2 separate regions of the Homo sapiens genome follow, and region 2 is linked to region 1. The links come from fine-mapping of genetic effects on plasma protein levels. Region 1 holds a variant in brackets. A gene starts in the other region. All regions are shown on their reverse strands.

Region 1 (2,928 bases):
ATGTAATTGATTAAAACTGAAATTCACATGGACTTCTCCAGTTTCAGATATACCACTCTCTGTTTTGTGCACTCCTGTTTCATTCACTCCTTATTCCTGAAGTTTTTGCTAGGAGAGATTCTATGTCAGAAATGACAAAGGACTTCTCAGCCAAATGTGGTACATTCAGAGGTCAGTGCCTGTAAGAATGGACTTCAGAGCAGAGCAGATCAGGTTTAAGTCCTAGCTGTGTTATCGTGAGCACATATAGCTTCTTTAAGCCTCAGTTTTCTCATCTGTAAAATGGGGCTAATGATAATAGCCAGGGTTTCTATAGGGATTAAAACACATAAATAAAGGTTCAGTTCAGGGCTTGGCATATAGAAGATGCTCAGTACATGCTAGCTATTATTATCATTATCATCGTCATCATCATCATTTCTTGGTTACTTCTTTATGTGGTCATGCTAAACAGTGAACTTCAACCAAGAGTGGCTTAGCAGGGAATGTAGGTTACATAGTTGGCTGCACTGTCATAGGCTTTACTTTCTTCTCTTAGAAAACAAAGCATCCTTTGAAGAAGGAATTGCTTTAGTTTCCCATGGGAAGTAATTTCTACAACCCACAAGTAAATGCAGTCTAATGACTAGAATGTGACAGTAGCTATAAAGAATGAAATGTTCCACAAACAGTACTGCCTCCTAAAATTACTCGATCTCAGCACTGTGTTTAGGTCCTCTCTTCCCCACCCATCTTTTTGCATCTACCTCTCATCCTCCCACCCACCCCACTTCTCCCCTATCCCATCCTTTTGGGATCATAAGACCCACCCACCCATCCCCAAATCCCTGAAGAATGTGGGAGTGTCTTGAGGTTCAGGGTAAAGCTGAAAGGCCTAGAGGCAGCTCTGCTTTTTCAGAATGGCCTGGGGGAGGGGGTGGGGTCTTGATGGCAGCAAGAGGCGGTTTGCCAATAGGCAAACCGGTAGACCATGCCTCATGCATTTTCAGGAAAACATCATTTAATCTCAGAACATCTGCAACAGTCTGCAACATATTTTCTCCAGGGTTTGAGTCTAAGCTGACAAAAGATACCGGACACCCCCACAGATTCTGTGACATATCTTGGTATTATTGAACAAACATCAGTTAGGTTCCTGTCTCAG[T/A]GCAGCGTCAGTCTGAATAGGAAATACGCCAGTGCTCTTATCGTTGCTGACAGACTCTGTAACTCACCTGCTGATAGTGTCAGTAACACAGCTTCCAGTTGGGGGAGGCTCTTCTCCCACTTCTTTGAAAGCATTGTTCTCAGGTAGGCAAAATAATTAAGGTGCTTTTTGAGTTTATGCTTACTTTTTCACAGTAAGCAAGAATTCCATGATCAAGGCAATGTACCTTGCAGACACATAATAAATGTCAATGAATTCAACACATTTTGAAACACACCCAGGGCTCATTTTTCCACTGCTTACACTTTCTTTCTGCCCCCTCAATCATCACATCTCCAAGTCTAAAAAAAGTGTCAGATTTAATGCCTTCATTTTATGGATAAAGAGATGAAGGCCACGACATTATAAATTATTTCATTGTAAACATACAGACAAATAGTAGTCAAGCAGAGCCGAAAGCCCTGGATTTAAGATGCATGAATCAGAGCTTTTCCTATCATATCTCACTTAAATGCCATTCATTTCTTTACTTGTTTTGAAAATGAATCTTATCCCTGTATTTGTTCTGTCTTCTAAATTAGAAACCACATACATCACGAGACATCTTTTGTTTGACCCTTGAAGTTTGAAAATATTTTCTGAATTAGTTAACATTTTTCAAAAACGAGGTTTTTCTGAAACATTTGCATTTCTGGCTTCTCTTAAAATGTGGACTATCTGGCAACACTGGGCTTGCATTCTTGCAAGGCAACACTCCGCTGGAGCTGGGAGGCAATTGTCTCCTTCCGATAGGACTTGCACCCTACAGCTTGCTGCAGCGCCTACCACTCCCTGCTGTCTCACATCCAGCCTGCTTTACTCCTTTATCTCCCTTGCTGCTGTAAGCATTTGAACAGGACCAGGACCCTGAGTTGAAAATATGACCAACAATTTCACGGATATTATTGCTCCAATGTAGATAGCATCTGGGGCCTCCCTACTCCTTGGGAGCTGCCTGAAATTCCCCTGAATCCTTAATTCCGTGGCCTGAAAAATATCCAAAGACTTCCCCAGTAGTTGTGTGAATAGTCATGGATTTATATTCTCATGGTTTTCTTTGCCTCTAGCTCCTACGGTTTTGACCCATGACATTTTTAAAGGATCCAGATTCTTCCTTGATCTCCTCCTTTTACCCCAGGCAGTTCGAGATAATGAGTGGATCTGGGGGGTGGGGAGTGTTACGGAGTAAATATTTTAACAGCACTGCTCATAGCAGATATAACTTACAAATTCATCCTCCATGGAGATTTTTCTCCAGCCTTTTGTCCATGCAGGATCCTGCCATTCTTACTCCTTTCCTACTCCAGTGCCCCCACCACCTCTACTTCAAACTTCCCCCTTTAAATAAAGCAGACAAATACAGCCTCCTCTCAAAGGTGCCGTTGCAAACCCATCAAGGTGCTTGAAGAGCAAAGGCCTCTTCCCTGTTAATATTGTCCATGTCTCTTTCTGAAAAGTCAGGATTCTGGACAGCAAATGTTGTACAGTGACACTTCTAAGCATCCCCCACTGGGCACTGGTCTTTAAGGAAGTAAGTTCCCAGGCTCTTATTCCTGGTATGAATCGTATGAATCAGCCAGGTTCCCTAATTTTAGACATGTATAAATTGTGCAGTCTTAGATATCAGAAATCCTAATGGTTTATCTGTTTACATGTCCACCTCCCCCATTGTACCATAAGCCTCTTTATGTCCTATTTATCTTTAGGTTTTCCTTACCTACACAGTGGGGAGGTGTGAAGGGGAG
Region 2 (2,898 bases), not on the chromosome of region 1:
TCATCATCATCATCATCATCATCTCCAGGTTTATTTCCAGCTCCCCCGCAACCCCTCCGGACCTGGAGCCGCCTCCGCCCGCGCTGTGCACGCGCTGCGCGCGACCTCAGGGCTGCACACGACAGCAGCGCGCTCCGGTCCAGTCCATGCCCGCGCACTGGCAGTGACATGTGGTCTCGGCGCGCACATCCCACGAGCCACAGGCGGAGCCACAAGTGCAGCCGGTGACGGCGAAGCCTGCAGCCCGGAACACAGGAGCGTGGACTCTGAGCTGGGAGGCTGAGGGTGGGAGCGGGAGGGGGGTGGGGAGCGCGGAGGGGGGTTGGGGGGGCGGGGGTGGGGACGGGGACGGCTGGAGGCTCCAACCACTGAATGGGCACTGGAGGCAGGGAGTGAGGGTGGACACCAGTGTCCAGATGGTGGGCGGAGAAGGCTGGGAGTCAGGACCAAGATCCTAGGGGAGTAGAGGCTGGACACGGGGAACGTGGCGGGGAGGGGGCATTCCCAGGGGACTTGGAACAGAAATGGGCGCCTGGACAACAGTCTCCTGCACTCACCTCGGGGGCAAGTAGCCAGGTCCCCCCTGGAGGTGACGCTCTGGCACTCCAGGCCAATGCTGCTTATTGCCCTAAATACTGGGGGGCAGGAGGAAAGGAGACAGGGGGAGCTGTGAGACCAAACGGTCCCTCCCCCATCCTCCCCTAGCCCTGTTGGTTTGGAGCTAGGTCCCTGTGGGCATAGGAGCTCACTGGCCTCCAGGACCCTGTCTTGAGTTGGGTGTTTTGGAGTAAGGGAAGGTTTGGAGTGAGAGCGGGGATTGGGTTTGGAGCCGTGGATAAGGTGGGGACAGTCGGAGGGGTTGGGAGTGGAGTTGGGGTTGAATTTATGATCTGGTTGGATTTGAGGATGAGATTTGGTGAGCGCTGGGGCTGGGTTGGAGTCAGGTCTGTGCCAGGGATCAGTGAGGTCTCTGAGACCCTTGGGGAGCTTGCCCAAGTGGGGGGTCCTCACTTAGGGAGCCGGCGACCTCCTGGATCCTCTCATTGATGGCTTCTTCCATGGAGCACAGGGTCTTGCTAGACACCAACAGCCCCAGGACAGGGAGGAGGAGGAGACAGAGAGCTTTCATCCTGCAGGCGCTGAAAGAGGGAACCAAGAGACCCACAGCTGGATCAGCCCTGCCCTGTGGGGAAGATCCGGCCCATGGAGGGAGTAGGATCTGCCCCTGGACCTGGACCCCTGTCCCCCCATGTGGGGGACAGGGATGGAGGCTCAGCCTTGACCCCAGCCTCCCCGCTGGTGCCATGGCAAGCGCAGGAGCAGCTGTCACTTACCCTCTCGGTGGGCTCAGCTAACCAAATCCGGCACACGAATTCCTGCACCGCAGCTCTTTCTTTGAGGCCTCTTGGGGTGGGGCTTCCTGGCTTGGCTAATAAGTCCCTGGGCCCCCAACCCTCCGGTCCCACATCCGGGGCCAAGAGGAAGCCCCTGAGCAGACAGTAAGGGCTGGAGGAGGAAGGGAGCCTTCCCACTTCCAACAGGGCCTCCGTCTTCATGTCCAGAGACTGGTCAGGAGGTGGTGCCCCAGGGATAATGCCAGGGGCTGTGGTCTGAGGAACAGGTAGACAAGCAGAGTTTTGCATGCAAGGGTGGCTGATGCAAACATGACAAAATTAATGCCTCTTGCTAGGCATGGTGCGGACAAGCACTTGTAGTCCCAGCTACTAAGGAGGCTGACGTGAGAGAATTGCTTGAGCCCGGGAGTTCGAAGCTACAGTGACTTATGATCACAGCACTGCACTCCAGTCTGGGCAACAGAGCAAGACCACTTCTCTAAAATAGTAATAATAATTATGTCTCTGGGTGAGAATGACATACCACATTCATACCCAAATGCCCATGAGCAATAGAACTGGTAAATAAAATCATGGTTTATGGCCGGTGGCTCACGCCTGTAATCCCAGCACTTTGGGAGGCCAAGGCGGGCGGATCACTTGAGGTCAGGAGCTTGAGACCAACCTGGCCAACATGATGAAACCCTGTCTCCATTAGACATACAAAAATTAACTGGGCGTGGTGGCGTGTGCCTGTAATCCCAGCTACTTGGGAGGCTGAGGTGGGAGAATCACTTGAACCCGGGATGTGGAGGTTGCAGTGCACTGAGATCGTGCCCCTGCACTCCATCCTGGATGACTAGCTTGGGCACCATAGCAAGACTCCATCTCAAAAAGAAGAAAGAAAAATCATGGTTTATTCCATCAATGGCATCACCTGCAACAGAAGTTGGAAAGCCATTGCTCATGGGCCAAGGTCCAGCTCATGTTTCTTCTTGGACCACCCATGAGCTTGGAATGGTTATTACATTTTTATTTGTTCTTTGTTTCCAGTACAACGGGCCTTTTTGTGGTAAAATACATATAACATACAACTTACCATTATAACTTACTTTTTTCTTTTTTGAGACGGAATCTTGCTCTGTCGCCCAGGCTGGAGTGCAGTGGCGCGATCTCGGCTCACTACAAGCTCCGCCTCCTGGGTTCACGCCATTCTCCTGCTTCAGCCTCCCAAGTAGCTGGGACTACAGGCGCCTGCCACCACGCCCAGCTAATTTTTTGTATTTTTTTTTTTTTAGTAGAGATGGAGTTTCACCGTGTTAGCCAGGATGGTCTCGATCCCCTGACCTTGTGATCTGCCCGCCTTGGCCTCCCAAAGTGCTGGGATTACAGGCGTGAACCACCGTGCCCGGCCTTTTTTTTTTTTTTTTTGAGACGGGGTCTTGCTATGTTGCCCAAGCTAGTGTCAGACTCCTGGCTTCAAGTAATCCTCCCACCTTGGACTCCCCAGTAGCTGAAGCTACAGGTATGCACCATCTTGTTCCATTTTAACCATTGCTTTTGT

Alleles and levels. Positions count from the first base shown, and alleles are read on the strand shown. Strength reflects both the effect of a copy and how common the allele is.
In carriers of allele T in region 1, the plasma level of the protein whose gene starts at base 1,407 in region 2 tends to be lower than with A alone (weak association).

What was found. A credible set is the group of variants that fine-mapping cannot tell apart. PIP is the chance, under the fine-mapping model, that this variant and not a neighbour inherited with it causes the effect. Protein levels are from antibody-based Olink assays in UK Biobank. Linkage for the fine-mapping came from a reference panel and not from the study's own genotypes, which makes the PIPs less certain.
Region 2: it holds the start of RETN, and the variant in region 1 is the best candidate, but not a certain one, in a credible set for the plasma level of the RETN protein (UK Biobank, PIP 0.89).

Annotation. Positions count from the first base shown.
Region 1 is chr4:54,540,925-54,543,852 of GRCh38, reverse strand. No RefSeq gene overlaps it. Among named protein-coding and RNA genes, the nearest start is that of LINC02260, 65 kb to the left of the region's middle. RefSeq lists a cis regulatory region at 755-1,366. The variant T/A (reference allele first, on the strand shown) is at 1,145.
Region 2 is chr19:7,667,558-7,670,455 of GRCh38, reverse strand. RETN (resistin) reads right to left here and starts at 1,407. Exons shown (of 4, transcript NM_020415.4): 1 at 1,335-1,407; 2 at 1,012-1,139; 3 at 558-635; 4 at 1-237. The coding sequence starts at 1,129. The coding sequence ends at 107.